Linked DNA regions of Homo sapiens. The protein of the gene in region 6 purifies or fractionates together with the protein of the main gene of each other region. This does not show direct contact. Each region holds a gene or a part of one and is shown on either strand. Other genes may lie near its edges. The genes, in order: NUP210, SPTAN1, EIF3B, NUP88, FLNB, SLFN11 and EIF3L.

What was found.
Region 1: the proteins of SLFN11 (region 6) and NUP210 purify together in Homo sapiens (affinity purification with mass spectrometry, with the first as the bait; one study listed by BioGRID). This does not show direct contact.
Region 2: the proteins of SLFN11 (region 6) and SPTAN1 purify together in Homo sapiens (affinity purification with mass spectrometry, with the first as the bait; one study listed by BioGRID). This does not show direct contact.
Region 3: the proteins of SLFN11 (region 6) and EIF3B purify together in Homo sapiens (affinity purification with western blotting; 2 studies listed by BioGRID, with this or other methods). This does not show direct contact.
Region 4: the proteins of SLFN11 (region 6) and NUP88 purify together in Homo sapiens (affinity purification with mass spectrometry, with the first as the bait; one study listed by BioGRID). This does not show direct contact.
Region 5: the proteins of SLFN11 (region 6) and FLNB purify together in Homo sapiens (affinity purification with mass spectrometry, with the first as the bait; one study listed by BioGRID). This does not show direct contact.
Region 7: the proteins of SLFN11 (region 6) and EIF3L purify together in Homo sapiens (affinity purification with western blotting, with the first as the bait; one study listed by BioGRID). This does not show direct contact.

What each region holds. Positions count from the first base shown.
Region 1 is NC_000003.12:13,410,323-13,413,822, reverse strand, and holds part of NUP210 (nuclear pore membrane glycoprotein 210 precursor), read left to right. Parts: intron 1-3,500. UniProt on the Homo sapiens protein: Nucleoporin essential for nuclear pore assembly and fusion, nuclear pore spacing, as well as structural integrity.
Region 2 is NC_000009.12:128,625,587-128,629,086, reverse strand, and holds part of SPTAN1 (spectrin alpha chain, non-erythrocytic 1), read right to left. Parts: intron 3,319-3,500; coding exon 3,109-3,318; intron 2,697-3,108; coding exon 2,400-2,696; intron 2,084-2,399; coding exon of another isoform or gene 1,997-2,083; intron 1,702-1,996; coding exon 1,589-1,701; intron 1,163-1,588; coding exon 1,145-1,162; intron 1-1,144. UniProt on the Homo sapiens protein: Fodrin, which seems to be involved in secretion, interacts with calmodulin in a calcium-dependent manner and is thus candidate for the calcium-dependent movement of the cytoskeleton at the membrane.
Region 3 is NC_000007.14:2,371,827-2,375,326, forward strand, and holds part of EIF3B (eukaryotic translation initiation factor 3 subunit B), read left to right. Parts: coding exon 1-23; intron 24-846; coding exon 847-969; intron 970-2,701; coding exon 2,702-2,780; intron 2,781-3,500.
Region 4 is NC_000017.11:5,388,663-5,392,162, reverse strand, and holds part of NUP88 (nuclear pore complex protein Nup88), read left to right. Parts: intron 1-500; coding exon 501-602; intron 603-3,202; coding exon 3,203-3,361; intron 3,362-3,500. UniProt on the Homo sapiens protein: Component of nuclear pore complex.
Region 5 is NC_000003.12:58,144,422-58,147,921, forward strand, and holds part of FLNB (filamin-B), read left to right. Parts: intron 1-1,499; coding exon 1,500-1,628; intron 1,629-2,398; coding exon 2,399-2,572; intron 2,573-3,500. UniProt on the Homo sapiens protein: Connects cell membrane constituents to the actin cytoskeleton. May promote orthogonal branching of actin filaments and links actin filaments to membrane glycoproteins. Anchors various transmembrane proteins to the actin cytoskeleton.
Region 6 is NC_000017.11:35,367,122-35,370,621, forward strand, and holds part of SLFN11 (schlafen family member 11), read right to left. Parts: intron 580-3,500; 5' UTR 482-579; exon of another isoform or gene 420-481; intron 1-419. UniProt on the Homo sapiens protein: Inhibitor of DNA replication that promotes cell death in response to DNA damage. Acts as a guardian of the genome by killing cells with defective replication.
Region 7 is NC_000022.11:37,852,419-37,855,918, forward strand, and holds part of EIF3L (eukaryotic translation initiation factor 3 subunit L), read left to right. Parts: intron 1-3,146; coding exon 3,147-3,226; intron 3,227-3,500. UniProt on the Homo sapiens protein: Component of the eukaryotic translation initiation factor 3 (eIF-3) complex, which is required for several steps in the initiation of protein synthesis.

The DNA.
Region 1 (3,500 bases), on a different chromosome or scaffold from region 6:
TAGGTGTAGAGTTCTGTGGCATGAAGTACGTTCACAATTGTTGTGCAGCCACCTCCACCATCCACCTTCAGAACTCTTTCATCTTCCCAAATGGACACTCTGTACCCATTAAATAGCAACTCCCTATTTTCTCCTGCTCGGGCCTTGGCCAACACCATCTTTTCATTGTACTCTTTGATGTTTGCCTGTCTCCCAAGAGAACAGGCAGACGCCTAGAGTCTTTGCAGGTAGCAGCTTCCCCCCAGGACTTACTGACACTGCTTTGAGTCATCTGGATGGATGACAAATGCTGTGATATTCTTATTTACACTAGTGTGTAAGGTTTCCTTTTTTGTTTGTTTGTTTTTTTTTTTGAGACAGAGTCTTGCTCTGTCGCCCAGGCTGGAGTGCAGTGGTGCGATCTTGGCTCACTGCAAGCTCCGCCTCCCGGGTTCATGCCATTCTCCTGCCTCAGCCTCCCATGTACCTGGGACTACAGGCGCCTGCCACCACGCCCGGCTAACTTTTTTTTGTATTTTTAGTAGAGATGGGGTTTCACCATGTTAGCCAGGATGGTCTCGATCTCCTGACCTCGTGATCCGCCCGTCTCGGCCTCCCAAAGTGCTGGGATTACAGGTGTGAGCCACCGCGCCCGGCCTCAAGCAATTCTTCTGCCTCATCCTCCTGAGTAGCTGGGGCTACCGGCATGTGCCAACACGCCTGGCTAATTTTAGTATTTTTAGTAGAGACGGGGTTTCACCATATTGGCCAGGCTAGTCTCGAACTCCTGACCTCGTGATCTGCCTGCCTCGGCCTCCCAAAGTGCTGGGATTACAGGCGTGAGCTACTGTGCCTGGCTTTTTTTCTTTTTTTGAGACAGAGTCTTGCTCTGTTGATCAGGTTGGAGTGCAGTGGCCTGATCTCGGCTCACTGCAAGCTCCGCCTCCTGGGTTCACGCCATTCTCCTGCCTCAGCCTCCTAAGTAGCTGGGACTACAGGTGCCCGCCACCATGCCCAGCTAATTTTTTGTATTTTTAGTAGAGACGGGGTTTCACCATGTTAGCCAGGATGGTCTTGCTCTCCTGACCTCATGATCCACCTGCCTCAGCCTCCCTTTTTTTTTTTTAATTGAGATGGAGTCTTGCTGTATTGCCTGGGCTGGAGTACAGTGGCAAGATCTTGGCTCACAGCAACCTCTGCTGCCCAGGTTCAAGCGATTCTCCTGCCTCAGCCTCCTGAGTAGCTGAGATTACAGGCATCCACCACCATGCCCGGCTAATTTTTGTGTTTTTAGTAGAAACGGGATTTCGCCATGTTGGCCAGGCTGGTCTCGAACTCCCGACCTCAGGTGATCAGCCCTCCTCTGCCTCCCAAAGTGCTGGGATTACAGGTGTGAGCCACCACACCTGGCCAAGGTTTCCTTTTAAAGTAATTTTTTAGTAAAGAAGAATCCATTTAATACAATAATAAGAAAAGGGCCGAGCATGGTGGCTCATGCCTATAATCCCAGCACTTTGGGAGGTTGAGGCAGGAGGATCGCTTAAGCTCAGGAGTTTAAGACCAGCCTGGGCAACATAGCGAAACCCTGTCTCTACTAAAAAAAAAAAAAAAAGAAAAGGAAAATAAAGCTGGGTGTGGCACAGGCACCTGTGGTCCCAGCTACTCCTGAGGCTGAGGCAGGAGGATTGCTTAAACCCAGAAGGTCAAGGCTGCAGTGATCCATGATTGTACCACTCTACTCCAGCCTGGGCAACAGAGTGAGAGCCTGTCTATTAAAAAAACTAGGCCGGGTGCAGTGGCTGGCCAGATGCAGTGGCTCATGCCTGTAATCCCAGCACTTTGGGAGGCCGAGGAGGGCGGATCACCTGAGGTCAGGAGTTCGAGCCCAGCCTGGCCAATATGGTGAAACCCCATCTCTACTAAAAATACAAAAAAAATAGCTGGGCGTGGTGCTGGGCGCTTATAATGCCAGCTACCTGGGAGGCTGAGGCAGGAGAATTGCTTGAACCCGGGAGGCGGAGGTGGCAGTGAGCTGAGATTGCATCACTGCACTCCAGCCTGGGTGATAAGAGTGAAACTGTCTCAAATAAATAAATAAGTAAATAAACGAATACAAGTCATACCTGTATGTGACTGGGCTAGGGCAGGTGTCCAACCAAGAGGAGCCTGATGGTGGGGAGGGGCCGTCGGCAGGTGCAGGTGTCTAGGCAACTGCCCTTCCTGGCCACAGCCTGCAGGTCCAGAGGCAGGGGCTTCCAGTGTTGCAGAGGAGATGTGGGGGTGGTGACAGGGGGGATGGACAGAGGGAGCCAAAATGAAAGAACCAATTTTTCTGTTAATCCCTTTGCATACTATGCCCCCACTTAATCCTAAAAATGAACAATAAACAAAACTCCTTTGGTAAGAATGACTGCACTGTACAAATGAGGAGCCTGGGTCCAAGAGCCTCACAGCTGGTTAGTGGCAGAGCTGTGTCCAAAACCAGCCTCAGATCCAGAACCACACTCACTCTCAGATGCCTGGGGAAATGCGCCACCCTTCTCAGATGATTGTTGGTTTACCCAGTTTCCTTCAGCTGGATTTTAAAACTTCAGTAGTACTTTTATTTTTCTGAGACAGATTCTTGCTCTATCACCCAGGCTGCAGTGCAGTGGCACAATTATAGCTCACTATAACCTCAAACTCCTGGGCTCAAGTGATCCTCCCTCCTCAGCCTTTAGAGTAGTTGGGACTATAGATGTGAGCCACCACGCCCAGCTAATTTTTAAAATTTTTATTTATTATTATTATTTTTTAGAGACTCACTATTGCACAGGTTAGTTTCAAACTACTGGCCTCAAGCAATCCTCCTACCTTGGCCTCCCAAAGTGCTGGGACTAAAGGTGCATGCCACCACACCTGGCTAATTTTTTTTTTTTTTTTTTTTGAGACAGAGTCTTGCTCTGTCACCCAGGCTGGAGTGCAGTGGTGCCATTTCAGCTCACTGCCAGCTCCGCCTCCTGGGTTCACACCATTCTCCTGCCTCAGCCTCCCAAGTAGCTGGGACTACAGGCGTCTGCCACCACGCCCGGCTAATTTTTTGTATTTTTTAATGGAGACGGGGTTTCACCATGTTAGCCGGGATGGTCTCGATCTCCTGACCTCGTGATCCACCCGCCTCGGCCTCCCAAAGTGCTGGGATTACAGGTGTGAGCCACCGTGCCCGGCCTTTTTGTTTTTTTTTTTAGAAATGGGGTCTCACTGTTGCTTAGTCTGGTCTCAAACTCCTGGTCTCAAGTGATCCTCCTACCTTGGCCTCCCAAAGTGTTAGGGTTACAGGCATAAGCCACCATGCCTGGCCCAGTGGTGCTTTTAAAAATCAGTATTGGCCAGGCACAGTGGCTCACGCCTGTAATCCCAGCACTTTGGGAGGCCAAGGTGGGCGGATCACCTGAGGTCAGGAGTTTGAGACCAGCCTGACCAATATGGAGAAACCTCATTTCTGCTAAAAATACAAAATTAGCTGGGTATGGTGCTACATG
Region 2 (3,500 bases), on a different chromosome or scaffold from region 6:
GAGGGGAGGCAAGAGCACACTGCAACAGACACACACAAAGCCCAAGCTGGCAGGGCGCAGGCAAGGGCAACCTGGTGCCCGGCGGGTACCTGGAGGCAGCAGGCCCAGTGGTTCACCCCAGGCAGCTCACACTAGGAATGGGCAAGATGGGCAGGGCTTGGGAGGAGCCATAAGGTGAGGGGAGCGTGGCACCTCACGGAGACAAGAGCAAGACCAGCAGACACAGGCATGGGGCAGGGAGGGGAGTCAGGTGGCCAGGGTGTCCTACGGGCACAGGCCGGAAACTGCGATCCCTACGTCCCCAGCTGCTCTGCCATCAGAATGTGTGGCCCGGCTGGATGGGTCTATTTCTCCCCTGGCCGCCTATACAGGCTTGATGTGCCTGGGTGCAGAGCCTCAGGAGTGCAGGCCAAGCCACTCCAGTCCCAGCAGCCCTGGCTTTCACAGCAGGCTTGGCAGATTACAAAGGTGACCCGGCCAGGCAGAGGCCCCAGGCCAAGCAGAGAAGTCCCTGCCGGGACTGGGCGGGACAGCCCAGCCCTGCTCCTCCCTGGGGCTCCTCCCACGTCCTGTCTATCACATAACGGGTGCATTTTTGCCTTCTATTAGGGCGGACAGTCTTGTTACCCTCCCTGACCCCAGGAAAGTAAAGTGGCAGCCTCAGCTACTTAGGGGGTGTCAGTGCCCAGCCCTTCTCAGCTGTGGACTTACTGTACCCTGCCTGAGCCCCCAGCACTGCCATCTGCTTCATGCCCACTGACCACTGTTGGACTCGCTGGGGAAGCAGAGGTGAGAGCCCAACAGAGCCCGGTGGCTGGACAGGCACGGGGGTTCTTAGGGCCTCTGGACTCCAGCTCTGGCCTTCGTGCTTCATCACCTTCCCTACCCAAAGTGAGCCCTTGGAATCGCCCAGTGAGGCAAGGACGGCTCCCCCTGGCTTGAAGGCTCTATCGGGGACCAGGGACCATGGGCTATGGGGCAAGGCACACACTCCTCATCAGGTGACGAGAAGGGTGGGAGGGGAAGTGCAGCCCGCCCTGGGCAGGAAGGCCCATCCCGGGATCCTCCACAAGCCAGGCCACGAGGGGCAAGCGCACGAGACCCCCACATGACAAGCCCAGAGAAGGAAGAAAACAATATTAACCCATCGAGGAGGTATGTCCTGTGGAGAGCAGATCCAAGCAGCCGGGAGACAAGGTGGTGTCCGGACAACAGCAGCAATCGGGGGGACAGAGAGAAGACACAAGAAAGAAAGGAAAACAAAAGCAAGAACATCAGTACCCAACGCACAGACCCTGCATCGTCTGTCACCAAGTCATGGCTGGGGCTGACCACGCGCCCTGCATGGTCCCACTCAATCCGGGATCTCTAACAACTTGATGTCTGGGACATGCAGCACTGAGAGGCTGCTCCACCTATGCCCCCACTCCCGGCTCCAGAGCCCGACCAGGCGTTGCCAGCCCAGCTTTATTCCCAGGCTGCCTCTGGTTTTACACAAAGCACCACCACCTCCTTGGGGCTGGAAGCTCCCCAGGGCTTAAGTACAGCAGGGACATGCTGCTGCTCCCCGGCCCCAGCGGGCTGGCACCTGGTCTCTTGGATCCACTGGTGGAAGGCGTTGGCGTGCTGGGCAAACTCCTGGCGCAGCTTGTCGTTCTCCTCCTGCCGCCGCTGTTCCTTCTGCAGCTCCAGCTCCCTCTCCTGAGGGCCAAAGGGGGGCAGATGCTGTGCGCTGCTGTGGCAGTGACACCAGCCCCTCCTTCACAGATGGGCTCAGGGTGGTGGTGGCCTCCCCACAAGGAACCTCCCCAAAGATGAGAGGAGGAGGCTGGGAGACATGAGGCCGGCTCAGAGCACTTGGTAGTTCTTTCTCTGTTCCCACCCCCCAGGGGCTTCAAGGAAGAGGCGGACCTGGAGGGAAGCGACTGGTCAGTCAAGCAGGGAGTTGCTGGACTGTCAGAAATGGAAACTTCTGGCTGGGTACAGTGGCTCACACCTGTAATCCCAGCACTTTGGGAGGCCTGGGCAGGAGGACTGCTTGAGGCCAGGAGTTGAAGACCAGCCTGGGCAACATAGCAACACCCTGTCTACAAAAATTAAAATAATTAGCCAGGCGTGGTGGCACGTGCTTGTAGTCCCAGTTATTCAAGAGGCTCAGGCAAGAGGATCACCTGAGCCTGGGAGGTTGAGGCTACAGGGAGCCATGGTAGCACCACTGCACTGAAGCCTGGGTGACAGAGACCCTGCCTCAAGAACACAAAAAGAAATGAAACTTCTGATGAAACCATGCTCCTCCATCCTGCTCGTCTTGTCGTGACTCAGTTAAGTGTGGGCTCTGAGCAGGGCCCAGAGAGGGCTCTGGGAGGCCGAGCAGCTCCTGAGGGCAGCGGGAGGTGTACCTTGATGATTTTCTGTAGGTTCCTCCAGGTCTCCTCCAGGGCCTCCATGGTAAACCAGGTGTAGGGGTTGGAGGCTACGCGGAAGCTCTTGATCTGGCGGTCCAGCTCGGCCAGCTGGTTGAAGTCAGCCTGGGCAGAGCTGAGGGAGGAGCGGAAGGCGTCGTGGGCCTCGCGCAAAGCTTTGATTTCTTCCAAGGAGTTGCAGCGCACGGGGTCTGTTAAGTCCTCCTCTGCATTTTCAAACCAGCTGTTGAAGGCAGAAGCCTTTTTGGCGAAGGTCAGGAAGAGGTCCTCCACCTGGAAGCAGAAGAGACTGAGTTGGCGGAGTCGCCAGGGCTGGACGTGCCGACGCAGTGCAGGAGGTGGGGTGCGGGGTGGTTCCTGGGAATCAGAGGCGCACACAGCCTGCTGGGAGCTTAGCTCCCCTCTGCTCCTGTCTCCTGCTCCCCCTTCAAGTCTTCACCAGCCTTTTTTCCCCTTCCTACCCTTTGCCCTTGTCTCTAGTCTGTCCTGCGTGCTTCTGAATGGCGATCTCACAGGGCCCTCTCATTTGCCCTGGTTTTAATTGATGCCAGCCACACCCATGTTTGAAAGCTCTGCACTGAGCTCACAGCTTCCTCAAGGGGGAGTGGCAGAGCTGGGCAGACAGAAGGTGGGCGTCCTTCCTTGAGCTGTGGGCCAGCTAAGCTTCACGTGGCCCCATCCTCACCTTGCGGAAGTGACTCTGAGCCTCCAGAAGCTTCTTCTTGCGGGCGGCTGAGTTGGCCAGAAGCTGGCTCCACCTCTTCATGAGGGAGGCGTGCCGGGCCTCGATGGCCTTGGACTGAACGTGTTTGGCGGCGAGAAGCTGATCTTTGAGGGCAGTGATGTTGGCAATGCCTTCCTGCTGGAAGGCCTGCAGCCCAGCGTCAAAAGTTTCCTGAACAAGGAGTGACAAGCCAATTTGTGGTGACTCCACAGGACTGGAACTTGCTCTTCCTAGGCTCAGATGGCACCAGCATGTCCCCCAGATGCCCAAGCCAAACTGTCCACCTGGACACTGCTGAGACTCAGTCACACATGCCCCCTTTCCTGCTCTCCTTCAGACCGCAGATCACTGCG
Region 3 (3,500 bases), on a different chromosome or scaffold from region 6:
TGTGGATGTGGTCGAGATGAAAGGCAAGTTGTATTTTAGTCACTTTGAGGCGAATGGGGCCTACGTGCTGTTTTACTCTTGGCTTTAACACTTCCATGCGAGGGGTTGTCTGAGCAGCTGAGTCAGGACTGTGAGCCCTCACCATGAATAGTCATCTCCAGGTCACAGAACGTGTTTAGAGCCTGGGCAACATAGTGAGACCCTCTCTGTACAAAAAACAAATAAAAAAAATTAGCCAGGTGTGGTGGTGCGCACCGATAGTCCCAGCTGTTTGAGACGCTGAAGCGGGAGGATCACTTGAGCCCAGGAGCAGAGGTTGCAGTGAACTGAGATTGCGCCCCTGCACTCCAGCCTGGGTGACGGAGCAAGACCCTGTCTAAAAAAAAGAGAAAAGAGATTGAGCCTGTGTTCTTGTTTGGCTTTTTGTTTTGCCATGGAGAAAAGGAGGAAGGAAGGGTTAAAAATAGGTGAGAAAATGGGAAACATGGCCGCCCTTCCAGGCAGGGAGACCGGAGGTCAGGATCCCACTGTAGGTGCACACTGGGTGCGAGGGAAGCGGCATCCACAGCTGCTGACAATGTCGGGCTCCTGCGGTCCTGCTGTGGGTGTCCTGCTCTCAGGAAGGGAGCAGTTTCACGTAGGTCACTCCACACAAGTGGAAGCAGCTGTCTCTGAAACTCCAGGAATGTGCACCTTTCCTGCTGTTGCTTGCTCTCCCGTCCTTTTAATGAACTTTTACACGTCGGGGGATATTTCTCTGTGGTTGAATAGTGAACATTTTAACTGATCAAGAGCACTATGTTCTGAATTGACCAAAAAGGGAGGGGTCTGTTTTGTGCATTTTAGAAACCATCATAGCCTTTGCCTGGGAACCAAATGGAAGTAAGTTTGCTGTGCTGCACGGAGAGGCTCCGCGGATATCTGTGTCTTTCTACCACGTCAAAAACAACGGGAAGATTGAACTCATCAGTAAGTAACCTGGTCCCTTTCCTCTTCTGAGTAGGTCAGCACAGATGATGACCCAGTCGCTGCCCAACAGTGAGCATTTGACTGGCCTAGGACCACTGCTGGGCAGGCCGGGACTCGCCTATGAATGGGGTGTGGCCTCGGCTGATGGAAGTGAGCGATGGCCTGGAGGTGCCGCCTCCTTGCAGGGTGTCTCTCTGAGCCCCGTTGAGCCCTCACGTTTAAGCGAGTATTTCCAAGGCTTCCATTCTCTGCCATCATCTCAAGTGAAGCTTTTTCTCTTCTGGCTGTAGCTGCTGTCCCTGGGCTTGGGGTCACTTCCTGTGGACATACTCCTGCCAGTCCCCAGTCTGGGTCAGGTGCCTTTGACCAGGGTGCGCAGAGCTGTTGCACACAGCTGTACTCTGCCCCCGTGCACCCGGTTCCAGGGGTGCCACACTGCACCCACCTGGGGCTCGCTCCTCACAGTGGTGCGTGGGCCCTCGCCTGTCTCACGGCACCTGCTGCCTGTGCCCTCAGCTCCTCACTTCATCCTGGGGTCTCTGCTCAGCACAGAGCCCGGTGCCCGCGGGGATTGAATGAGCCATTGCTTGTTGCTTCATAGGCGTGGGGTGTGTGTGTGTGGTAGCCAGGAGGTGGCGATGGGCTGTGTTCCTCACACAGGACTCTGGCTGCCAGCTGCCCTCCTGCAGAGCCATGGGTTTGGCTCTGTACCAGGAAGGGGTTGGAATCTCCTGGCCGCACCTTTCGCAGCATGATTCTGTGAGGAGTTTAGTTTTCACTTTGCTAGAGCTTGGCAGGGTGCGTGGTGCCCTCAGTTGGCAGTGGATTACAAGATTGGCTGTTTCATTAATTCTGGTTGATAGAAACATATGGGCAATTGCAGACTGTCCAGAGACTTGTGTAAGTCTTCTAGGTCATAAAACATAGGCAAGCAGAGGCACCTTGTACCTTCCAAACATGCTGCGTGACACGCCTCTCCTGAGGTTTGGCATGGACGCTGGGGCCACCGCATGGGCTCCATCCCATGCCCGTGGCTGTTGGGGTTTTCGCTTGTGCAAGTCTGAGACCCCTGCCCCTGCCAGGGTGCACTGCCCTCCCACATCTCCTCCCCTCCTCCCCACGTCAGCCTGCCCCATGCCTCTTTTTTGGATGTACCACAGGCTGAGGGGAGAGAGGCCACAGGTTGTCAGCTCTGTTTGAGATGCAGGGAGCATATGCTCTGAGGGGGACTTGAGCCAGCCCCAGCTGGCCTTCACTTCTCACTGTTCCAGCGGCTCTGCCCGAGATCCATTCCGGAAGTAAGAGTTAGTACCTGCAAAGATGATGACTGTAGTCAGTTTCAACAAGCATACAGCTTATCCAAAGACGCCTTGTCGCTAGGAGAGTGGCTTTGGTCTTTTGGGGTCACACGTCTCTGACATCTCTCTGTTGGGGTCCCTGCAGCAGTGAACATTTGCTGTAAAGGGAATTCTTTGTCCAGTTACCTCAGGAAATAAGATAGTATTGTTTTGAAATACCCCTGTCGCATCTTCTTTTTTTTCCCATTTAAAGTATGGATCATGACTTAGGGGGTACTTGGCGATGGACTTTGTAAAATTGTTTTCCGAGGTGGTCCAGCATTACCAGCTCTGCCCTCATGGGCAGCATGAGCACGGCCAAGTCCTCCAGCCTTGGCTGCCCCGGCACTGTGGAAGCCCTCGCAGCTCGTGACAGGCGCGCTCTTTCCTTTCAGAGATGTTCGACAAGCAGCAGGCGAACACCATCTTCTGGAGCCCCCAAGGACAGTTCGTGGTGTTGGCGGGCCTGAGGAGGTAGGTGTCTGCGCTCTGAGCCTGTCCGCCCTGTGAGTAGCGCTCTGCTGTGGCAGAGACCCCTCAGGCGCCTGCACCCGGCTTCTTGGTAGAGAGAGTATTGTGCGCTGAAAGGGTTGCCCCAGTGTCAGTGGATAGGACTTCATTGAACCTCTGCAGACCCACGGTACTCCAGGACTCAGGCCAAGCCCGCACAGAGTGAAATAAGCGCTCCCAGATGCTTTCGTGAAGTGACCAGGCAGACCTGTCTGCGGGTTGTGGTTCTCTGTGGTTAAACAAGTGCCTTCCAGCCATCCAGTAACCTCCCCCCGGGGGTCAGTCCCTTGTCTTCTAGTGGGAAGGGTATTCGTTACACAGCTGTGAGGCTGCCTTACCTTTGTGGTTGGTGTCACGGTGTCGGTCTCAGCTGTGTTCCAGCAGTGTGTCGAAATCATGGAGAAGCTTCCAGCTTTCTGCTCTGAGTTAAAAGAATACCCTTTTGTTGCTGCTCTCCCTTGCTTCATTGTCCACACTTGCTACTGTATTTTTGGAGGCTTACTTAGCCTCAGATAACATTTCCAGTAAAAATAATATGATGGCAGTCATATGTAATACTCACTGCACACTCTGCATCTGTGATTTGGTAAGTCTCACAGCGGCCACCAGAGGCTGTTGCTGTGCTTGTTTCCATGTTAACGCCGAGGCTGGCTCCCTGGGGACCCCATGCCGCAGCACCTCTCA
Region 4 (3,500 bases), about 30 Mb from region 6:
GAATGACAGTTCCCATCTGAGGTCTCAGTTTCCAGTGTCTTCACTGAAGTGGGAAGGAAGACTGAGAGAGATACACGCTGTGCGTGCCAAGTGATTTCCTGTGACATTGACATTGGGCCTCATTGAGAGAGACTCGGTAGTTCTGTTCATTCAACAGTTTCTAAGCACTTAATTTGTTAGCACTGGGCTAGGCAAACAAAGATAGCTGGGGCTTATGTGCAAGTTGGAGAGATCTTCAGTGTAACGTGTAACTTTTGAGATTACAGTCAGCAGCACGCTACAGTTAGGGATTCCTGAGTGACTTAGTCACATGGGCTCTAGACTTTAGTGTGGAGCTGCATTAAAGGTTTCCAAGCCACCACTTTTGAGGTTATGGTACTGATAGGATGTCCCAAGCAACTTCAGCCCAGGCCTGAGAAGGCCGCGGACCTGTCATGTCTTTGCTCTTGGTTCCATTGCATTTGCTGCTTTGTAATTTAACTATGACTGTGTTTTTCCAGGCAGCCAGCTCCAATTCGAGGATTTTGGATTGTACCTGACATTCTGGGACCCACGATGATCTGCATCACCAGTACCTATGAATGCCTCATATGGCCGTTATTGTACGTCCCATTTTATATTCTCCACACAGCTCTTGTTAATTCTGCAATATCTAAGTTGGGAAAATGCACTCAGTAACCAACTTGAAGCTATACATGTGTGGTTTATACTTTGGCTTCTGACTTGAGGGTTGGAAGGATGGATATTTCTGTTCCTGCCATCATCTCTATAAGGTTTCATTGTAGGTATAGTTTCTGGCATCCCCTGCACCTAGCTGAGAGTCAGGAGCTTTTCTTCAGAGTGTGGAGAAAAAATACTAAAATTGAATACCAAATTCCATTATCGATATGAGTAATAATTATCAAGCTGTGACCATACGCCAAGCTCAGAAGTAAGCCACGTACCCGCACTGCCTCCTGGAATCATCAGGGCAGCCCTGTAAGGAAGGCACTGTCATTTCCATTTTATAAAAGTGGAAACGGGGATCGAGAGGTTAGTAAATGCTGAAGTCACAGGTAACAAATAGAGCTGGGATACAGATGCAGGTCTCATTGACTCAGAAGTCCATACTCATACTCTTTAATTTCTCCATCTCTGCCAGCCTGAGGGACACTGTAGACTATGTAAACTGGAATAAAGCTGAACTCAGGCTGGGTGCAGTGGTGGTTCATGCCTGTAATCCCAATGCTTTGGGAGGCCCAGAGTTCGAGATCAGCCTGGGCAAAACAGTGAGACCCCCATCTCTACAAAAAACAAAAAAATTAGCCAGGCATGGTGGTACACATCTGTAGTCCTAGCTGCTCAGGTGAGAGGATTGCTTAAGCCCAGGAGTTTTAGGCTGCAGTGAACCATGATCATGCCACTGCACTACAGCCTGGGTAACAGAGCAAGACCCTGTGTCTTTTAAAAAAAAAAACAAAAAAGCTGAACTCTTAGTCTTTGCTCCTTTAAGGAACTCAGATAATTAAGCTGTAATCACTATGTTCCTTTTCCAACAGCCCTGGAAGATCATTCTGAGTTACATAAATGTAGGAATATGAGTACCAAAAACAAAAGTCACTGGAGCTTCAAACACTAGACAACACCCCCACCCCTTGTCCGTTCAAAGCTTGCACCTCTGGATGCTGACATAAATTCCTAATACTGGCAGTAGTTTACTGTCCTTAGAGGATCTTCCATAGTCTTTGAAGCTTGATTAAGTTGTACTATCTGGATGTAAAAATAAATATAAATTTTGTGTTATTTACACTGAAGGCACTAAAAGCTAGCAAGACCAAACAAAAATAATAAAATCACTGGAGAAAAAATTACCTGTAAGTTACCTCAGCATACTTTTTAAACACCCACAGTACATTTAGTAAAATAAAACCTAGTCACACTAGCTTACTTCAGAATAAATATGAATCCCAAAGGGGAAAAATAAACATTAATTGTCTGGATATTTTTTTTTTTTTTTTTTGAGACGGAGTTTGCTGTGTTGCCCAAGCTGGAGGGCAGTGGCACGATCTCAGCTCACTGCAACCTCTGCCTCCCGGGTTCAAGTGATTCTCCTGCCTCAGCCTCCCTAGTAGCTGGGATTACAGGCGCACACCACATGCCCAGCTAATTTTTATATTTTTAGTAGAGATGAGGTTTTGCCATGTTGGCCAGGCTGGTCCTGAACTCCTGACCTCAGGTGATCCACCCACCTCGGCCTCCCAAAGTGCTGGGATTACAGGCATGAGCCACCGTGCCAGGCCAATTATCTGGATACTTTCAGATCATATTTCTGCCAACTCCCTGAAATACAAGTTGTCTATAAAGTTATGCTATTTCATGAACTTTCACTTTTTTTTTTTTTTTTTTTTGAGACAGAGTCTTGCTCTGTCACCCAGGCTGGAGTGCAGTGGTGTGATCTCAGCTCACTGCAACCTCCGCCTCCTGGGTTCAGGCGATTCTCATGCCTCAGCCACCCAAGTAGCTGGGATTACAGATGTGTGCCACCACACCCAGCTGATTTTTATATTTTTAGTAGAGACAGTTTTACCACGTTGGCCAGGCTTGTCTTGAACGCCTGACCTCAAGTGATCCACCTGCCTCGGCCTCCCAAAGTGCTGGGATTACAGGCGTGAGCCACCACGCCCAACCAAACATTCACGTTAGAATTGTTGCCTTCAGAGTAAGTCACTTGCCATGCTGCCGAAGTCTGTGAGATCTTTTAAGCTCTTTTTGAAGTTTGAGTATTTGCACTTGACTGAATAGTTTTTAGAAATGAAATTATATAGAACCAATATGGTATATACAGCAGTTTCTTGGCTTAATATTGGTTTTGATCAACTCTAAACCTAACAAATAAGTAATTTATGTTTGTGGCTCCGGCTTATAAACTGGCTTTCAAGTCCTTTGCCAAGAATCCATGCTAGGTGTTTGTGCTGCCTTGATCTTTTAGAAAAGAACTGGAAATGGCAGTCAGAAATGCTTTCACAAATCAGGGGCATTGGAATAATAAGGGTGTAGCTTCCCAAAGTGACCTTTTCAAGGTGGAAAACATGCATTCTTGCACTTTTACAAAAGTTACACTTTATTTTATATTCTGAAAGTTCTGGATTAATGTGGTTTCTGCTTTCCTGTAATACAGTAAATCACTCCATGGTAGAATTCAATTTACTTACTTATTTTGCAGAAGTACAGTCCATCCAGCGTCTCCTCCCCTGCTTTGTACTCGAGAAGATGTTGAAGTGGCAGAGTCTCCCCTCCGTGTTCTGGCTGAAACCCCAGATTCCTTTGAAAAGCATATTAGAAGCATTTTGCAACGTAGTGTTGCCAATCCAGCATTTTTGAAGTATGCAACCTTGGGCATAGCGGTTTTATGAATGGGTTCTCTTCTGTCTTCAGAATTACTGTGCATCCTTTCTGTCCTCATCTGTTTCATATACTTTTTACTGTGATAAATTTGGAAGAAACTGGATATATTTGATCAG
Region 5 (3,500 bases), on a different chromosome or scaffold from region 6:
CAAACGGAAATACAGATATATAAGAGAGTGTCTTCCCAGCCTTCCCTCATGTGGACGAACCATTACATATTTGACCATTTCCCTATTGGAGGGCATTTTGGTTCTTCCTGCCCTCGCTGTCCCCAGTGTTGCTGCGCAAATCGACTTTTCCCCTAGTCACCTCACACTCACAAAGATGTATCTGTGAGATTTAGTTACCAGAGGAGGCAATGCTAGGGCCCCAGTGCAGGCATCTATGATTTTGACAGATCTTGCCAAATTGCCCTTCAGAGGGGCTGTTGCAGTTCACACGCCCTCTGGCCATGGAGAAGAGCACCTTCTTTTCCACAAAATTTGCCAGTAGAATATGGTATCAAATTTTTGGAGCTTTGCCAGTCTGATGGTTGGAAAGAAACAGAATCTCAGCGTTGCTTTATTTGTATTTCTCTTGTGAATGAGACCACACAACTTTCCCTATGTCTATTTGTATTTCTTTTTCTGTGAACTGAACATTTGGATCCACGGCCTGTTTTTCTATTTGGTTATTGGCCTTTGTCATATAGTTTCTAAGAGCAATGTAAACATTGGAGAGATTAGCCCTTTGTGGTAGGAGTTGCAAATGTTTCTCTGAGATTGGCATTTACTTTAGTTGTCTGTATGTAATATTGGTTTAAAGCAAAAATGTATTATCTGCTTCTATTTAAATATTCTAAAGCGGCAGATGGAGAGAGAGGAAAAAATGTCTTTCTCACATCTGCCATCCACTTCCACTGCTGGTGTGAGTTGTGTATCTTTTCAGATGTTTCTCTCTGTATCTACAAACATACATATAATTTTATTCTATTTTGTTTTTAAAGGAATAGCATAATGGTATTCATAGTTTATAGCAACTTGCTTTTTTTCTTTTTAATGCATCATATTATGGATAATTTCTCAAGTCAGTAAACATGGGTCTTCCTCACTCTTTTTAATGGCCCATGAGTAGATCAGCATTTATTTAACCGGTCCCCTGTTGTGAACACTTAGGTCTTTTCCTGATGTGCACCCGAACACTGCAGAAATGAAAGTGCTTACATAGGGCTAGGAGTCGGGGTGGGCAGAGAAGACCACTGTGGGGTTGATTCCTTACAGGTTGAATGGCATGGGCAAATGGCCTTCCAAAAGCCCTTTCCACTTACCTTCCCTCTGGCCATGGGTCCTTTCACCACCCAGTGCAAAAGTTTCTTCCTTATTTGTCAGGTTGGGCTGGTACCTTACCTTAGCCCCCTTCCTCATCTGGAGCAGCTTCCAGGATTGTTTTTCTTATGTTGTGATTGAAGGAATAATACTGCGTAGACCCTCTCTGATGTCCTAGGATGGCGGGGGATGGGAGGTGCATGTGCATCTCCTTCTGTCTCTTCATGCCTCTGCTTAGGAGGCGCCAGACCTGTAGAGAGGTGGACGTCAAGATGCCAGTTGTCCAGGGTCTTCGTTCACCCCTTAATGAGCACCAATTTTGTTTGTGTCCTTCGTAAACCCAGAGAGCCCACTCCAGTTCTACGTGAACTACCCCAACAGTGGAAGTGTTTCTGCATACGGTCCAGGCCTCGTGTATGGAGTGGCCAACAAAACTGCCACCTTCACCATCGTCACAGAGGATGCAGGAGAAGGTACTGTGTGGTTTACGTGTTTATACGCCTCCAGCTGTCCATTTGGAGGGTGAAGTGGACACGGTTCCAGGGTGGCTTTTAAAAGTGAGACAATCGAATGGTAGTATTTGTCTTGTCTTTTCTCTCGTGTAAATCTGTTTCTTCTTTAGAGCCGCTTCGTCTTCTACCCAGACAGACATTTTTGAAGTCCTTTGTGTTCTAACTGAAATCAGATTCATGCTATGAAATACTTTATGTGACTTGTCTGGAATTTAAGTGTGTTTTGGTTGGTGATGTTTTTGTTCTTGTTGCACATGTATCCACAAGACCACATGACTTACTGAGTGGCTCTTTTTGATAAAGCTGTGTGCCCATTCCCGTGGTATTCATGGATAATCCCAAATCTGTGGTTCTAATGGGATTTCCGTGATGGCAGCCAGTGCCTGATGGGCAGGGACAATCCACCTCTGCCCTCCACCACCCACCGTCTCCTATGTGTAATTGATGTACACGGCTCCTTCCTTTTCTCATCCCATGCATCCTGAGAGTAGAGAGAGCTCCAGGGTTACTTGCAGTGAAGAACTCAGATGTTTGGGGTTTCTTCTCAGTGGGTGTTTTTACTGCGTGGACTGCTTCATTCTGACAGATGTCCCTTTGCCCACAGCTCACGTGGAGTGCGTCAATCCATTGTCCCCAGCATCAGGGCTGCCCTGGATGAGTTGTTAAAAGGAAACTCTTAAAACAAGGCAACTCTCTCCCTAACACCCCTGCATCCCTGTTCCCACTTGTAGGTGGTCTGGACTTGGCTATTGAGGGCCCCTCAAAAGCAGAAATCAGCTGCATTGACAATAAAGATGGGACATGCACAGTGACCTACCTGCCGACTCTGCCAGGCGACTACAGCATTCTGGTCAAGTACAATGACAAGCACATCCCTGGCAGCCCCTTCACAGCCAAGATCACAGGTAGGGTTGTCTGGCTTCTGGGGTCTTCCTCGTGGGAAGTATGGCTGCCTCTGACTGCCACCCTCCTTATCAGACCCCTGGCAGCAGGCTAGACGTCTCTTTGAGTTTAGGTTTCACAGAGACTTGTTGAGGAGGAGCAGGGGATGGAATGCAATTTTGGATTAGCTAAATCCTTCTCTTGCTGATAATCCAGGAAAATGCGAGAGCTAGTATTTGGAGCACACTTTTATTGTGCCAGTGTGACTCTAGGGTGCAAAGAGAAAGCTCTCAGATGGAGTGTTCGAATCATACTTACTGCAATAGTGCATGAAGTGCATGAGCTTAGACATGCCCTTCAGCGTCACTACTAGGTAAATTTTCTGCTATCCCTTTTACAGATGGGAAAACTGAGGCTTGGCAAGGTAGTGGTGTAGCCAAGTTCACATATAGGTAAACAGATCCAGGTTATCAAATTCCAAAGCCCATGCTCCTCACCTTGCTGTGTTCAGGTTATGCTTTCAGTGGGTTATAAGGAAGATGCACAAGGCAGATCCTGTTTCCCCACCGTATTTAGACCTGTCTGTGAAGCAGCCAGTAGTACTGTGTGGAATGTGGTCATTGTTTACCTAGAAATGCCCACAGCCATGCCAGGCAGGTATGAGGTGCCTTCAACTAACAAAAATTCCTATATTTTATTTTATTTTTGAGACAGAGTCTCACTCTATCACCCAGGCTGGAGTTTTAGTGGCATGATCTCGGCTCACTGTGACCTCTACCTCCTGGGTTCAAGCGATTCTCCTGCCTCAGCCTCCTGAATAGCTGGGATTACAGCACCCACCACCACACCCAGCTTATTTTTGTATTTTTAATAGAGATGAAGTTTCACCATGTTGGACAGGCTGGTCTTGAACTCCTGACCTCAAGTGATTCGTCTGCCTCAGCCTCTCAA
Region 6 (3,500 bases):
GTTTAGACCCTTGCCTACAAATTTCTATTTCTCAAAATTCCATTCTGCATTCCAAGACCATTGAAACATCTTTGTCAAGTTATTTGTAAAATATTCCTTTCGATGTACAGGGATTTCAAAGTTAAATATTTTCTCTGCCCCATAAACTTTATTGTCAAAGCCAATAGATTATAGTTTTTGGTTGGCAATTGTATTTAAACAGCAACCCCACCATCTGCTTAGATTCTTTTGCAGGCAAAAAAGGCTTAGGGAGCTCTATCTCAAGCTCTTTCCTTAGGATTAAAGGAATTATAATCAGCATCACTTGCACATTTTTTGTAAGGTAGAGATATTGTCCCATATAAATTTGAAATCCTAAATAAAATTAAACTAAGTCAATAAGAAATTAAGAATTCAGAAAAGAAACTCAGTACACTTACAAAAGCACTTCAGAAACAAAAGCACCTGATTCTAGTCAGTTTACAGGATAACTTTTTCAAACCTTTCAGTGTAGCCAGAGTTCCCACCAACACAGTGAATTAGCACCACCTGCTATCTCTTTCCACCAAAAGCAGTCCTGAAGGCTATGTATACAGAAACCTATGTAGACAGAGGTAACAGAGTTCAAGGATTAAGACTCAGTTTTCCTAGGTTCAAATCTCAGCTCTGCCATTTATTAGCTGTACGGTTTCCATTTATTAGCTGTATGGTTTCCATTTATTAGCTGTATGGTTTCCATTTATTAGCTGTACGGTTTCCATTTATTAGCTGTCCCCATTTCTCCCCATGCCCCAGGATCTAGTCCTGCAGGACCCCTGATGGAGCAGTGACTCTGATGTGGACATGCAGGGACAACCACCCCCAAGCGAGGGGCTCAGTGGGTAGCATCTGTGCATTTCTCCCCTGCCAAGAAGGCTTACCTAGTTTGCTCAGCAAACTCCCTAAAAGGTGAGGAATTAGCCTGGGAAAACTTTGCAATGTCAAATTGTCAAGTAGTGCCCAATTTTCTGTATGCTTCTGGGTGGTTCTTATTTTTTTGTTTTACTTCCCCTTTCCTTCCATCCTCCCACCCATCTCCCCTAGATCACAGGGGATTGGCTAGCCTCAGATAGAAACTGAACAGAAAGGGAAATGGGAGGGCAGAACAAGACGGTGTAATAGAAGGCTCCACCTACCATCCCCCTTCTCCAGCAGTGACCATGTGGTGCAGAGAAATCTGTGTGCTTGGGGAAGGGAGGGCACAGCAATTGTGAGACTTTGCATTGAACTCAGTACTGCCCTGTTACAGTGAAAAGCAAAACCATGCTGAATCCAGCATATACCTGCCCATGGAGGCAGAATTTGGACCAGCCCTAGTGAGATGGAAATTGTCCATCCCAGCAGTTGAAACCTGAGTTTCAGCAAGCCTCGCCACTGTAGCTGAAGTGCTAGGGGGTTCTAAATAAACTTGAAAGGCATTCTAGGCCACAAGGACTGAAACTCCTAGGCAAGTCCTAGCCCTGAGCTGAGATCAGAGCCAGTAGGCTTGGAGGGCACACGACCTACTGAGATACCAGCTGGGGCGACTAAGAGAGTGCTTGCACCACCCCTCCCCCAACCCCAGACAGTGTGACTCTCAGCTCCAAAAAGATCCCTTCCTTCCATTTGAGGAGAGAAGAGAGAAGACTAAAGAGGACTTCTGTCTTGCATCTTGGATGTCAGCTCAGACACAGTAGGATAGCACATTGGTCAGGGTCATGAGACACCCATTCCAGACCCTATCTCCTGGACAACATTTCTAGACACACTCTGGGCCAGAAGAGAAACTGCTGCCTTAAAGGGAAAGACCCAGTCCTGGCAGGATCTATCACCTGCTGACTAAAGAGCCCTTGGTCCCTGAATAATCAGCAACGATACCCAGGTAATATGCCGTGGGTCTTGGGTGAGACTCTGCTGGCTTCAGGTGAGACTCAGCACAACCCCAGCTGTGGTGCATACAGGCAGAGACTCTTTCTGCTTGAGAAAAGCAGAGGGAAAAGTAAAGGGGACTTTGTCTTGCACCGTAGGTACCAGCTTAGCCACAGGGGTAGAGCAACAAGTAGGCCCTTGGACAGCATTTCTGGACCCAACCTGGGCCAGAGGGGAGTCCACTGTCCTGAAGAGTGAGTCCCAGACCTGGTAGCATTCACCACCAGTTGACTAAAGAGCCCTTGGGCTTTAAGTGAATATCAGCAATAGCTAACAGTACTCCCTGTGAACCCGTGGTTGTGTTGGCCACAGGGTCATCTCCTCTGCCTGTGGAAAAAGGAGGGAAGAATGGGAAGGACTGTGTCTCATGATTTGAGGGCCAGCTCAGTCCCAGTAGAATGGAACACCAGGTAGACTTCTAAGGTTTTCTTACTCCAGTCCCTGGCTCCTGGATAGCATCTGTGAACCCACCTAGGGCCTGGGGGAACTTGCCACTCTGAAGAAAAGAACACAGCTTGGCTGGCTTCACCACCTGTTGATTGTTTGAAAAGATAAACAAAATTGACAAACCTTTACCAGGCTACCTGAGAAAAAAAGGAGAATACCCAAATAAATGAAATCAGAGATGAAAAAGGAGACAATACAACTGATACTGCAGAAATTCAAAGGATCATTAGTGGCTACTATGAGCAACTGTATGCCAATAAATTGGAAAATCTAGAGGAAATAAATTCTTAGACACATACAACCTACCAAGATTGAACCATGAAGAAACCCAAAACCCGCACAAACCAATAAGAAGTAATGAGAACAAAGCCATAATAAAAAGTCTCCAGCAAAGAAAAGTCTGGGACCCGATGGCTTCACCACTGAATTCTACCAAACAGTTAAAGAAGAACTAATATCAATCTTACCCAAACTATTCAAAAATTAGAGAAGGAGGGAATACTTACAAACTCATTCTATAAGGCCAGTATTACTGATACCAAAACCAAAGACACATCAAAGAAAAAAAATTATGGACCAGTATCTCAGCAAAATACTAGCAAACTTAATTCAACAATACATTAAAAAGATCATTTATCATGACTAAGTGCTATTTATTTCAGGGATGCAAGGATGGTTCAACGTATGCAAATCAGTCAATGTGATACATCATATCAACAGAATGAAGGACAAATGCCATATGATCATTTCAACTGATGCTGAGAAAGCACTTAATAAAACTCATTATCCCTTCATGGAAAACTCCTCAAAAAACTGGGTATAGAAGGAACATACCACAACATAATAAAATCCATGTATGACAGACCTACAGCTAGTAGCATACTGAGTAGGGAAACACTGAAAGCCTTTCCTCTAAGATCTGGAACACTATAAGGATCCTCACTTTCACCATTGTTATTCAACATAGAAATCCTAGCTAGAGCAATTAGACAAGAGAAAGAAATAAAGGGCATCTAAATTGGAAAGGAAGAAGTCAAATTGTCCTTGTTTGCAGGTGATATGATCTTACATTTGAAAAAAACCTAAAGACTATACCAGATAACTATTAGAACTGATAAACAAATTCA
Region 7 (3,500 bases), on a different chromosome or scaffold from region 6:
TCAGAGCAAGCTGAACTCCGCAGGTTTTGAGGGGCTGCCGTTGTGTAATGAGCGTTAGAGATAAGATAGGTCAGTCAAAGCTGGGATAGTCAGGAGTGACTTCACCAAGGAAATAGAATTTAAGCAAGTCAGAAGGATGAGGGAGAGAAAACAAATAGCCAAAGGCCTATTGATCAATGAATAGGATCTCTGACATGTGTTTTCTTTTTTTGTTGTTTTGAAAGAGCTGATTGTAGTTGAAAAGCAGAGGAAACCTCAGACATTGCATGGTTTTAGGCCTCACCCCTGCCACTCTCGTGAGCCTAAGTTCTACTTGGTGTGGACTCCAAGGTCCTTCCCGCCCCTGCAAGCCACCCATTAGGTTGAGCTGAGAGATCAGCCAATGGGAACAGAGTCACTTATGACCAAGAAGAATTGATCTGGGGGTTAGTTAGTGAGGAGAGAGAAAGGGAGAAAACCTTGTTCGGAGGTTGAACACCTCCAGCCGAAGAAGGTGCAGCATCGAGGTCTTTCACCACTAGCAAATGGATCCAAGTCATGCGGCACCAAAAGAGGTTAGCAGCTGAAGGGTGTTGAAGTGACACAACACCAAAACATGCTACCAATGATGAATCCGTATCTGTACAGGTCTCCAGCAGCCTCAGTTCTTGCCTCCTCAAAAGAAAGAATTCGACTGAGGGGTAAAATGCTACCGATGATGAGTCCGTATCTGTACAGGTCTACAGCAGCCTCAGTTCTTGCCTCCTCACAAGAAAGAATTACACTGAGGGCTAAAATGCTACTGATGATGAGTCTGTATCTGTACGGGTCGACAGCATCCTCAGTTCTTGACTCCTAACAAGAAAGAATTCGACTGAGGGGCACAAGGCAGAAGAAGAGAGGGAGGCAAGTTTGAGAGCAGGAGTGAAAGTTTATTAAAAAGCTTTAGAACAGGAATGAAAGAAAGGAAAGGACAGTTGGAAGAGGGCCAGGTGGGTGACCTGAAAGGCAAGTGTGCTGAACTGTGTTTTCTTTATTCCCCGGGTCTTTTCTGATTAGAAGTATATAAATCAGCGCCTACAAAAATTAGCTGGGGCATGGTGGCAGCATGCCTATAGTCCCAGCTAGTTGGGAGGCTGAGGTGGGAGGATCACTTGAGCCTGGGAGGTTGAGGCTGCAGTGAGCTGCACAATGGAGCGAGACCCTCTCTCAAAATTAAAAAATGGACCTGATGTTCAATAGAAATGTAGCTAGACATTAATTTTAATTTTTCAGCCAAGCGAAGTGGAGATTTATTTAAAATATTATTTCTATATGTAATCAGTATTTAAAAATTAAGGGGATATTTGCCCTTTTTTTTCTTTATACTTAAAGTTTCCTAAATCCAGTGTGTATCAGAAATACTTGCTTTGTGTTTAGATTTTATAGAGTTTATGACTGGAAAAGTAATTCAAATTTGAAATTTGAATCTTCAAATAGTAGAGTAATTCCAAATAGACCTAAAAGTTTTCCAATACTGAGTTAAGTGTTGGTTTTTAAACTTAAATGGCAACTAACTGAAATTTAAAATTTAACTCTTTGCTTATATAGTAGCCACATGTAGCTAGTGGCTATTGCATTGGGCAGTGCCCGCAGATACAGATGACAGTTGAAGCCAAGCATCTTGTAAGTCTTTCTCTAGGAGAATGTGAGAAGAAATGCTGGTGCCTTAAGAAGTATGTTTCTTTAGGGATGGGTGGGCAGGCAAAGAAAGGATCTAGTAAAGGAGGCAGAAAGAAAAGTGAAAAGTAGATAGTAAATTGGCAAAGAAATGTCACAGGAACCAAAAAGTCTGCAGAAGAAACTGAGGAAGAGAGTATCACCAAATGTTTTAGTGAGGTCCAGATGAGAAAAAAAGCCAGTTGAATTTGGTAACTTGGAGGGCCTTGATAACCTTAGCAAGGTCAATGTCAGTAGAGTGATGGAAGCAACAGCCAGAGAGCAGTGGGGTGAGAAAGGGGAATTGGTAAGTATCGGGGACATAAAGGGTCACTGAGTGGCTTTGTGTTTTGTTTCTGTGTTTTTTCTGTTTTTGTTTTTTGTTTTTTGAGACAGGATTTCGCTCTTGTTGCCCAGGCTAGAGTGCAATGGCGCAATCTCAGCTCATCGCAACCTCCGCCTCCTGGCTCCAAGCGATTCTCCTGCCTCAGCTTCCCAAGTAGTTGGGATTATAGGTGTGCACCACCATGCCTGGCTAATTTTGTATTTTTAGTGGAGACGGGGTTTCACCGTGTTGGTCAGGCTGGTCTGGAACTCCTAACCTCAAGTGATCCACCCGCCTCAGCCTCCCAAAGTGTTGAGATTACGGGTGTGAGCCAGCGCGCCTGGCCTGTTTCAGTGTTTCTTTTCTGTTCTGTTTCTGTGTTTCTCCCCAACCCCCATCCCGTAGAGACAGGGCCTTCCTATATTGTCCAGGCTTGTCTTGAATTCCTGGGTTCAAGCGATACCCCTATCTTGTCCTCCCAAAGTGTTGAGATTACAGGCGTGAGCCATCATGCCTGGCCTGTTCAGTGTTTTTTAGGGGAACTTGAGCATGTTTATATGTTGGACTAAAAGAGCCAGAGAAGCAGGAGGGGTGGGGCTTGAGGAGATTGGAGGAAAGTATTAATAGCTGCTGAGGGCATCAGGAGAAGAAAATTAAACAACCTGTTGCAGGTTTGTCAAGTAGCAGTGTTTGGATTGGATAGGCAGCAGTGTTTAAATTGGATGCTGTAGGTCTGTTGTGGCCTTGGACTGCAGCAGACTGATTTGCTTCTGTGTTTAGAGACGTTTGGATGTGCTCCAGGAGATGGAAACGCTGTGTTAAAGAATGGTGGCCAAAAAAGTAGTTCTTATAGCAGAAAACAGCAAGCAGTTAAATATGGCTATAGTTAATGATACAGAGGCAGGAGATTATCCTGAAAAGCTTGATGGGTCCCTAACTGATACAAAAACAATATTTTCTTGTGTTGAGAAAGATTGAAGTGTGGAGTTGGGTTGAGGACAGTTGTGGGCTTGAAGGGCTTTGGCCTCAGCTCTGTTTATTTGACATCTTCCCCTTTCTAAGCCTGGGTCCTCATCTGTAAAATGTTAGGATTGGCATTCTCCAGTCCTTTTGGAATTTTAGAGATTTTTTTCTTGATTTTTAGCTGGACCAAGCTGACTGAAAGATTCTTCAAGAATACACCTTGGCCCGAGGCTGAAGCCATTGCTCCACAGGTTGGCAATGGTAGGTGTGAGCTCTTTATATCTTGTGCACTGAGTGGAATCCAGTGGCTGAGTCATTAGACAGGAAGCTCAAGAGGGTCTGTGTCTGTTTTGCTCACCATTTTGTTTCCTTGGTGCTTGGTATGTAGTAGGTCCTTGGCAAAATAACTTGTCGAAGGCTGGATGATTTAAGAGAGGACAGAGATCTCTCATATATGGTGAAATTTAGATCTTTGTACTGACTTGTTTCTATTTCCTTCTATAATTTGGGGGTCATTACAGTCACTCTGGAATAA